Linked DNA regions of Homo sapiens: region 2 is linked to region 1. A link means that fine-mapping ties the variant in region 1 to the expression of a gene that starts in the linked region. Tissue or cell type: blood mononuclear cells. Region 1 holds a variant in brackets; the other region holds the start of a gene. All regions are shown on one strand. Distances are between the middles of the regions.

What was found. PIP is the estimated chance that this variant, and not a neighbour inherited with it, causes the effect.
Region 2: MOCS2-DT starts here. The variant in region 1 is fine-mapped to the expression of MOCS2-DT in blood mononuclear cells (TOPMed, PIP above 0.99). The same link has a PIP of 0.9 or more in whole blood.

The regions. Positions count from the first base shown.
Region 1 is chr5:53,062,073-53,067,304 of GRCh38, forward strand. ITGA2 (integrin subunit alpha 2) reads left to right here. Exons shown (of 30, transcript NM_002203.4): 13 at 714-857; 14 at 2,840-3,043; 15 at 3,769-3,905; 16 at 5,046-5,185. Among named protein-coding and RNA genes, the nearest start is that of MOCS2, 45 kb to the right of the region's middle. The variant G/T (reference allele first, on the strand shown) is at 3,178.
Region 2 is chr5:53,106,998-53,112,229 of GRCh38, forward strand. It overlaps MOCS2-DT (MOCS2 divergent transcript), which reads left to right and starts at 2,845. Exons shown (of 2, transcript NR_104654.1): 1 at 2,845-3,151. MOCS2 (molybdenum cofactor synthesis 2) reads right to left here and starts at 2,760. Exons shown (of 7, transcript NM_004531.5): 1 at 2,254-2,760; 2 at 1,525-1,646; 3 at 80-224. The coding sequence starts at 177. RefSeq lists a silencer at 2,499-2,788.

The DNA of each region.
Region 1 (5,232 bases):
AAGGTTCAAAGTCTCAGCTTTTCTTATTTTAATTTATCTCCACCTTGTCCTCCTGTCCCAATCTATCCAGCAACTACTTACCTGTCTCATATCATGCCATGTACACTTACATCATCATATGTGCTTTCCCACTTCCCTCTGCCTAGAAAACTCCATGTCCTTCTTACTTTGCAATTTGAATGATATTTTAACTTTCTAAGCCTTCCTGACTCTCCTGCTCTCTGATCACTCAGCCTTTGGGACTTGCCTCTATTACAATTTATTTTACTATAGAAGCTTAATTATTTATTCTCCCTGCCTCTACCCCTCCTGCCTTTTGCTATGACAAACCTCACATACCTACAAAAGGTTTGCCTTATAAGTATGTCTTTGACCCCCTGGCATCAGAAACACCTGGAATGCTAATTTAAATTGCTGTGTTCTGGATCACATCCTAGACATTACTTCAGAATCTCTAGAAATGGGTCTCAGGGATCTGTATTTCAAAGGCATTTTCTTGGAGATTCTTGTGCACACTAAGATTTAAGAACCAGGTGTTAGATGGTGTTAGAACCTGAGGGAAGGAACTGTGCTCTCTGTCTTCATGTTCCAAGCACTTTGCAAATAGTAAACACTCAATTTTTGTGTATTGAATGAGCAAGTAAATGTTCAGTGTAATATTAGAAGTATATGAATCCTAGGAATTCTAAGTTTAACATGTTTTATTACTCCAGATTGGCTCCTATTTTGGTAGTGTGCTGTGTTCAGTTGATGTGGATAAAGACACCATTACAGACGTGCTCTTGGTAGGTGCACCAATGTACATGAGTGACCTAAAGAAAGAGGAAGGAAGAGTCTACCTGTTTACTATCAAAGAGGTAAAAAAAAAAAAATAAACTAATAGTTTAATTTGCTTTAGTACTGGTAATTTAACTTGCATTTGGAAAGAAAAATTTATTATTATTGAATGATAATTTGCACAGATAGTATGGTTTACATTTCATCATTTTTGAGGATGTCCCCATTAAGTTATGATTTTAAAAATCACATTAACAGGAAAAACTAGAGTTGAATGTATAGTGTACTGCCATTTTCCATGAGAGGTCTTTGAATATATAGTCTCTTATGCAAATAAAGCCATTATAAGTGCACATCGTTTATTGAAATATGCACACACACAAACATTTGTGTATTTCTCTAGTATCACATGTAATTTTTTGCGATAAAGACAACAATAACAGGGCAATGCTTTCTTGTTATCAGTTGACAGTGAAAAACAGAAGTTTTACCAAGCACTTTGTAAATTCCTTGTGATCTCAGATGCTTCCTACATTAGTTTGTCAGGAAGTGTCATTGCTTAGTGTAACATTTAGGCATGTATCCAACTCTTGAAGTTTCAAGTCCTTCCACAAAAAAACACCATACATTAACATGGCAAAGCATAATTTTTCCAATTTGTGGACTGAACTCTCTAAATCCATGTATATAAGTGTAGTGAACTCCATGAAATAAAAAAAGAAAACCAAATTAAAGGCACAGATTGACATAGAAAATTATATGCTCCTTAGTATATAAGAAAAGGAGAAGCTGATGTTAAAATAGTAAATACTATGTTTAAGTATTGTGATATTTTGTACCACCTGATTTATTGATATTTATGTAAAAATTAATCTTTTAACAGAAGTAATTAATTAAAACAATTCTAAAGCAATTATACATATAAAGAATGTGTAATTGAGTATCAACAAAGGCTGGACCTAGTTACTTGTTGAAAAACTGACAAATCCCCCCTTCTTTAAATATTTCTTACTTGTGAGATATACTGAATTATCATTAATTGTTGAAAATGAACAGATCTTTTAATACCGTGTCAAACGCAGTAAAAATTTGTATAAGATTATATTAGAGGAGAAAGAACACTGACCCAGTTTCATGGTTGAGAAACATTGCTTTCTTGTGAAGTCATGAAATATTTCCATACTTGATCATAAAATTGAAGAAAAAAACTGTGTTTTACAAGGAAACGTCTTTTCCTTTGCACAGAATTATTTAATGTTTTTAATAATGGAGATATTAACAATCTCATTTTCTACTTCCTGTACCACTATAATTATGTCACTATTTGGTAATTTTTACAGAAAGCCTAAATTAAGATATTGTGTTTTATTTTGTTCTGTGTCTGCTTTAATTTCATTCAAGATATTAGTAATTTTCACCAGAAAAATTTTAAATCAAAAGGTTGGAAATAGATGAAGATCGTATTATTGAGAGGAAAATGAGACCAAGAAATGGATGCTGTTCAGCTACAGTAAAGAGAATTATCTCCTTTGACCTTGGTTTATGAGCAGATATTTATGACCTTACTGAAATTCTTATTTATAATTCTGATCATAAATAGTTCAGGTTTAAAATTCTATCCATTTTTAATATTAAAAAATTAGTTTGGTCATCGATTGCTCTGAATTTTATTTTCTTTTTTATTTTATCATATTTCTTTCACTTTTTTAAATAGATGGGGACTTGCTCTGTCACCCAGGCTGTAGTGCACTGGTGTGATCATAGCTCACTGCAGCCTCTAATTCCTAGGCTCAAGCAATCCTCCCACTTCAGCCTCCTGAGAGCTAGGACTACAGCTGTGTGCCACCACTCCTGGCTAACTTTTTACAAAAATGTTTTATAGAGACAAGGTCTCACTATTGCTCAAGCAGGTCTCAAATACCTGGCTTCAAGTAGTCCTTCTGCCTCAGCCTCTGGAGTCTTTGGGATTACAGGCATGAGCCACCACACCCAGCTGCTCTGAATTTTAATTATACAAGTTGTAAGGTTTGCTTTAATCATCCTTTTGTTTCCCCTTTGCAAGGGCATTTTGGGTCAGCACCAATTTCTTGAAGGCCCCGAGGGCATTGAAAACACTCGATTTGGTTCAGCAATTGCAGCTCTTTCAGACATCAACATGGATGGCTTTAATGATGTGATTGTTGGTTCACCACTAGAAAATCAGAATTCTGGAGCTGTATACATTTACAATGGTCATCAGGGCACTATCCGCACAAAGTATTCCCAGGTAATCCATGAGCTGTTATGGTGATGTATGTATTTGTGGGTCTTATCATATTAGACATAGAAAGCGTCATGTAAACCATGCAATCCGTCCGCCTTATTTTGTAACTTCATTCTTTCACTCAGCAAATATAAAGT[G/T]AGCCTCTACTGTGTGCCCAAGCACTGTTCTAGAGTCTGGGGATGCTATAAGAACAGGACAGACACAATTCTGATCTTTGTGTGCCTTATATTATATTGGAGGAGACAAATAAAAAGAAAGAAGTAGATAAGATAAAGTATTCCAGATAGTAATAAAGGAATTTTTAAAAAAGCAAATGAAACTAAAATAGGAAATAAAATTTCAGCAATAGGAGTATCAGGTGGTTGAAGGGGTGACTAATGAGGCCTCACTGAGCAGCCAATTTTGGAGTAAGACTGGAAGGAAAAGAACTAGGAAATTAACCCTGTACCTGAACTTGCATCAATTTGCTCCAAGTCCACTGATCTTTTCACTGGTTTATGATTTTTTATTAAAGATTTATGCTGTCCCTTCGATGAAAATGTGGCTGTAAGAGTGATGCAGAGATCAGATAATAAGATGTGATTAAAAAATGAATCTTTAGAATTTGTAGAGAATAAACACAATCTGGGACATTACTATATAGAAAATATAATAATGAAATTCAGAGGCTGCCATTTTCTGGTTCAGCTGTTGTGTACTATAATTTCGTGTCAAACCTGCTCTTTTAGAAAATCTTGGGATCCGATGGAGCCTTTAGGAGCCATCTCCAGTACTTTGGGAGGTCCTTGGATGGCTATGGAGATTTAAATGGGGATTCCATCACCGATGTGTCTATTGGTGCCTTTGGACAAGTGGTTCAACTCTGGTGAGTCAGGAAGAGCCAGACACAAACTAACTAAAAATTACCTGCTAAGAAAGCAGAACAGATGTCTGTACTGGTATTATAGAAATGCCACATGCATTCTATAAGACTATAGGGAATCGATGTATCATAGTTTGCACAAAGGAATAAATGTGTTTTTCCAAGTAGGAAAAATAGATATATTTGCTTACCATTAGAAATATAGTTCTCTCCTCATATGGTGAGTAAAACAGTACATAGAAAACATAAAGTTCTGGAAATGGTATCCAGGCTATTTCTGAATGTTATCTTCCTATAAATAGCCTTATCTCAGCATACAGAAGGGAAACCTCATGAGAGTGCATTCAAAAATACTGAAAATTCAGACCACACAAGTAAAGTGTAACTTCTATGTGACTGAATGGTATATTTTAAAATTATTAGTCATAAACAATAAGCCATTATTTAGGTTTAGCTGACCTCTCATTGACCTCCACAGGAGTTGAAGATTCAGAGAGAACAGTGTGAAGGTCATGTGATTCAAGGTCAAAAATAAGTATATTGGGCCGGCAAGGGAATAGAATCAGAAAGAAGTTGTTTATTCAATCAAGAATCTCCATTCATTTGTCTCTGTCAAAAAATGTGCTTTAAATGTACAAATATTTGAAGAACAGAAAAATAATATTCATTGATTATTTTTTATTTCTGAGTTTAATGATACTATTTACAAATCTCACTTGTGCTTTTAAAGAATGAAGTACATTATTTTTATTGCAGAATGAAACTTTTATGTGGAAAAAATAAAACTCAAGAATAATACTTAAGACTTTAAAAAAACAAGAAAATATATTTACTGAATAAATCAGTTAAAATCATTTCAGAGTAGCATATCAAGAGTAAATACACATATCCCAGAACCTAAAGTATAATAAATAACTAATATGTTAAACATGTATTGTGTTAGTGATGCAGTCACAAATTAAAAAAAAAATTATCTCTGTCTGCCATCTTAGAGCTTTCAAATATATACTACTGCTAAAGTGCTTTGATAGAGAGTAGAGAGAAAAATTCAGTAATGCTGGTACTGGGTCCTCTATGATAAAGGATATAATACGTGTGCTCAGTAATAACATCCATCCATCTGTTACTCTTTATGTCTTTTAGGTCACAAAGTATTGCTGATGTAGCTATAGAAGCTTCATTCACACCAGAAAAAATCACTTTGGTCAACAAGAATGCTCAGATAATTCTCAAACTCTGCTTCAGTGCAAAGTTCAGACCTACTAAGCAAAACAATCAAGTGGGTGCGTAGATCTGAAATAATCTGTATAGAAATTGGTTGGCTTACAGA
Region 2 (5,232 bases), 45 kb after region 1:
TAACAGCAAACCACATACACTTTATCATCTGTATGATCCTTCCCCACACGACTGATTAAGAAAAACAAATCTCACATACCTAGATGGCTCAAAAGCACTATCCTCCACTAATGGGGGGGATAACGGCAATTTCGTCTCCAGGCTGAAGCACGAGGAGCTGATCTCCAAGCTCGACATATTCTTGACGAACAGCAAATATTATCTGATTTCTAACATCAGCCAATCTAAAGGGGAAAAAATATGACTCAAAGTATCAACGCTATGATAGACCTCAAATCGCTTCAGCTGCAATTAGAGATATTACATAGATATAATTATATAAAGCATCACCTGCAAAATTACCAATTAAATTTACACATAGTATATGGAGAAAGGACATATCCACTGAAGAACATACTTATACACCACAAAGATACGTTAAACTGCTGTCAACTCTTTATTGGATGTTGTATGCCTTGGGGAATTAAACAACAAAAAAATGCACAAAAAACCCACCAGACTGGAGGCAACACTCAAACCAGGTCAAAAGAAAAGTTTCCAATCAGTACATGGCCTTTCCAGGGTCCTTCTATCCATGTGTTCAAGCACAAGTATAACTGCCCACAAACTATGCCTGTACACATTATCCTACTCGAATATGGATTAAGTTGCTTAGAAAGATGAAAAAGATAGCATAGGTCATAAAGCCACCTGCAACACAGCTTTATTAGCTGTTCCTTTATACCTGAACAATGGTAAGCTTTCTTTTCAGGCACAGTGAAAACGTATACAAGACCTGCTGTCTCCCTCCAGGTAAAGCAGAATGGGAGACCCCACTGTGTTTTATTGATTATCAGGCCACTGTAAGAGCAACTTAAAAGATACGAAATCATGAAGTGGTTTGCTTTTAAACACTTATTATGGAGTATCTTTTACACAGAACTAGGACTTCCAGGTTAAACACCTATACAAGCTAAGTAACACCATTAATATTCCTGAATCACCCTCAAATAAGTCACTTTTATATTTTGTTCCAAAAAGAACTTGAAGTGGGAATGACATAAGTAAAATTATAGGTTTTTCAAGAACCAGAAAAAAAATTAAATATTACAAAAACTCAAATTCAGCAGCATCTAGGATTTGTTGTAACTCATTTTTCTTTCAATCTTAGAAATTTCTATGTTGAGCTCTCTAAAGAGAGGGGCAGAACAAAATGTTTAAAGCACACATTTTTAACAGAATTTGTAACAATTTCATTTAATGTTATAAAATTGCAGAAGTGACATGTGCAGTGTTTTGTAAATTATCAAAGAGAATATAATCATGTCCCTCTGCGGTTCACTGTGTTTTGGGGTAAAATATCTTTAACCTTTCTTAAAATACGGTGCACATTTAGAGTTTTTCAGGTGTTCCAAAAAAAATACAACTAACGATTCTTTTTGACATTAAGCACGGAAATCGAAATTAACCTTTTTACTTTTATCATTTATGTATTTTGAAAATATCTAAGTGTTACTCATATGCATTCTACAAATTTTTAACTACCCAGGATGTCGAGTTTCTATCTCCTTCCACAGCTGCAACGCTTTTATTTCTTGAGGCACAGAAATGGTCTCTGAACGAACTCCTGTTATTTCAGCACTTTTTGCAAAATACAATACTTCAACCTGAAAGTAAAGAAAATGCTTTTAATAACAACTCATACTCGTTTTCTGACTGTCAATGTTGAGCAGTTTTCTCATTTTCCAAATGTATTGCTTTAATCAAAGACAAATTTTATAAAGAAAATTAAATAACCCGTAAAAAATTTCAGTATACCTACAAGTTCAAATTCTGAAAACTTGTTGTTTTAAATACAATTCAGACTAATTTCTGGATGCCTTTTAGTTTTACAAACTTAAGTGTGCCATCATTAAAATCCTAAGTATTTATCTTCTAGGAAAACATGTTAAGCCTGCCTTAATTGACATAAAAGTATAGCACCTTTTATAAATATGTAAGCAAAGAACAAATGTTTGAGTCAAGAGATGAGTTACACAAATAAAATAAATGAATAAATAAGCGAAAAACCTGTTTCTCACGGTTGTCAAATGACCTTAGATTCCGGTCTGTATAACATCGTCCCCAGACGCTAAGGATTAAGTTATGCAACATAGTAAATCTGACATTTACAGAAGCAAGTAGGTTTGAAACACACGACAGACTGGAATTTGCTAGAACAAACTTGTGCCAGCAGCCTGGTATGTAAGGGATCCGACGAAGTAAAATAGGCACCTGTCACTCCGTGCAAACAACTCTTTACGAAATAATTACAGGTTTGCAAATGATCAAGGGTGTAGAAATCCACAGATGAAGCACAGTTCTTCACAAGAATTCTCCATGAGGTGCATTTCTTTTTAGATTAAAATTTTAGCTTCATCAAAACGAATAATCTGGGAAAGAGGTGGTCATAAAAGGTGGAGGCGCCTTCAGAACGAGTCCGTCCTTGCTGCCGTGAGCTGACAAGAGTTCTCGGAGAGGACCCGACTTCTGCTGGGGCAGTCGCAGTAAAGCCCGGAGACAGGAAGGGCCCGGGGGCGGGGGCGGGGGCGCCCCCGAACCCAAGACGCCGGCCAGGTTGGGGGCTAGTGGGGAGGTCCGACTGACCAAGGCTGGGTATGTGGAGGGAAAGGGCGGGAGAGACACGTCGAGGAGGGCTCCGCACCCAGGCCCGCACGCACACCCGCCACCCTTACCTGGCACAGCGGCACCATCCCGCCTAGGACAGCGGGACCGAATCACGGCCGCAAAGGCGCAGGCGCGGGCTCACCCGGAGCGCAGGCGTAACCCGACGGCGCTCAGCCCCCGCCTGCGCCTGCACGGAGCATGCGCACAACCAGCTCCGCCCCGCGCCGGGCTCTAGCTGTTTCCCTCAGGCGGCCTGTTCCACGCCAGGATTAGTTTTGCTTCGCAGATGGGCCGTGGTGGTGAGAGGAAGCAATCAGTATGGAAATGGAGAAATGGCTTACCATGCATGTCCTTCTCCCCAGGAGGGAGGTCGTGGTGCAGGCGAGCAGACGCCAGACTCCTGGACACTTGCCGCCTGCGTTATGGAGGCTTAGCTAATAACCTTGCAGGGGTCTTCAGGCTTTTCCACTGGCTCACCTTTAGGCTTCTGACACTTTTACCTACGGTATGTGAACCTCGAAAATTTGAGACAGGTCTCAGTTAACTTAGAAAGTTTATTTTGCCAACGTTGAGGACATGCCCGTGACACAGCCTCAGGAAGTCCTGAGGACATGTGCCCAAGGTGGTCAGGGCACAGCTTGGTTTTATACATTTTGGGGAGACAGGAGACATCAATCAATATGTAAAAAGTACATTAGTTCCTTCCAGAAAGGCGGAGACCGTTAAAAGCAAGCCCCGCCCCCCCCAACTGGGGGCTTCCAGGTAGGTAATAGACAGTAGCATTCTTTTGAGTTTCTGATAAGTCTTTCTAAAGGAGGCAATCAGAATATGCATCTATTCTTTGTCAGCAAAAGAGGTGACTTGGATAGAATAGGAGGCAGATTTGCCCTGAGTAATTCCCAGTTTGAAGGGGCCCAAGATTTTTTTCTTTCCCAGGTATATGATTAGTGTTTCTTAAAGACAGAATATCCGCCTGGTCAGAACATTCGAACTGTATGACTTTTCCTGTTTATTGGCTGCTCGGTAATTGTATACTGTCCGTCCAACTTTCCCAATTCTTGCCAACAAGAACTCTTGGCTTTAAATTGCTTGCGTCGTTAAGTGGATGTAAGTTACACGTCCCTTTCCTTGGAGCTCACAGTCCTGGGTAGGAGAGTTTTAAATATGAATGATAATTCCCTGTAATACTAAGGATCTGTGTTACATTTCAAGGGTGGAAGGGGAAAGTGGTTGTGTCACCTGGGGAGTGAGAAGATGCTGAGAAGGTAAATCTGCTAGAATGGTGGCAGTAAATGACAAGAGTGGGAGTAGAGCACGAAGAAATTTCACTTGCCTCTGACAAGCCACAGGGATATGAAGAAGCATAATAAGTTCACAGAAGGGCAAGTAGTTGGCAAGGCAGGTGTGCCTCCAGCAAAGGAGGTGATGAGAAGTGAGGCTGGAGAGTCCTTGGTAGGAAAAATTGACAAGGAGCAATGAATACCAATGTGTATCCTGGTAAAGTTGCTAAACATAAAGGATAAAGACTATATTCACACCCAGGCATAAAAACAAGGGAATGACAATAGTGGCCTTAGACTCCTCAGTGGCATCTGATGGCAATGTGCAGTGTGTAAAAAAGGCTGAGAACAAAAGCATGATCCCATAATATTACAGCCAAACTGGTGGGGCAGGATTCTCCTAAATCAGCAAAAACTCAAAAAACACAATACCCAAGAACCCTTCTTAAAAATCTTTCTTGGGCAAAAAGTCCACTCAATCAAGAGTAATCAAAGTAAATAACTCAGCAATAAAGGTATTAATATGGGAAAAATGAAAAACTAAAAAAACTGGCATTGAGATTTTAACCCATTCAAACGTAAAACTAAGATATCAATTATGGGATATGATTATAAAATAAAATGTAAATGACATCAGAATATTAAAAAAAAATGGAAACTGTCCAAAGTGGGAACATATAGTTACAAAATATCAATTCAGGTTTCTTAATATTTTTCATAATCTTCTTTATTTTAGAAAATATTTTAGGAGCAACTATCTTTTACAAATAAACAATAATCTGATGATTTATAATCCTATCAGTTTCACCAGTTATTTTGTTGATAAATTCAAGTAAATATAGGTCAATAATATTGCCTTGCTTTCATTTTTTTATTTTCTAATTCCTAATGAGGTGAATCTTTTCATATTTTCATTGAGCACTTATACTTCTCTGTGAAGTTTCTGTTCACATCGTTTATTCATTATGCTGTAGATATGACACAGTTCTTTTTTTTTTTACAAAATACAGCCCCATCTATAATTTGTGGATATGCAAGCAAAACTGATACCAAAATATTCCAGGCTTATTCCATAGGCTTTGATTTTACTTTTCTTATGAATTCATTAATTAAATCAGTGAATCATCACAATGGTATATAAATTATTTTAGTAATAGCAAAATGACTTTATGAACATTTGCATTTCACTTAAGCTACAATTTTTTGTGAAAACATAGTTGGAGCCACCATTTTCCCAGTTATTTTTACCATAAGGAATCCTATTTGGTTAAGAAAAAAAACAAGTTGAGGCAAAAACATTTCCATT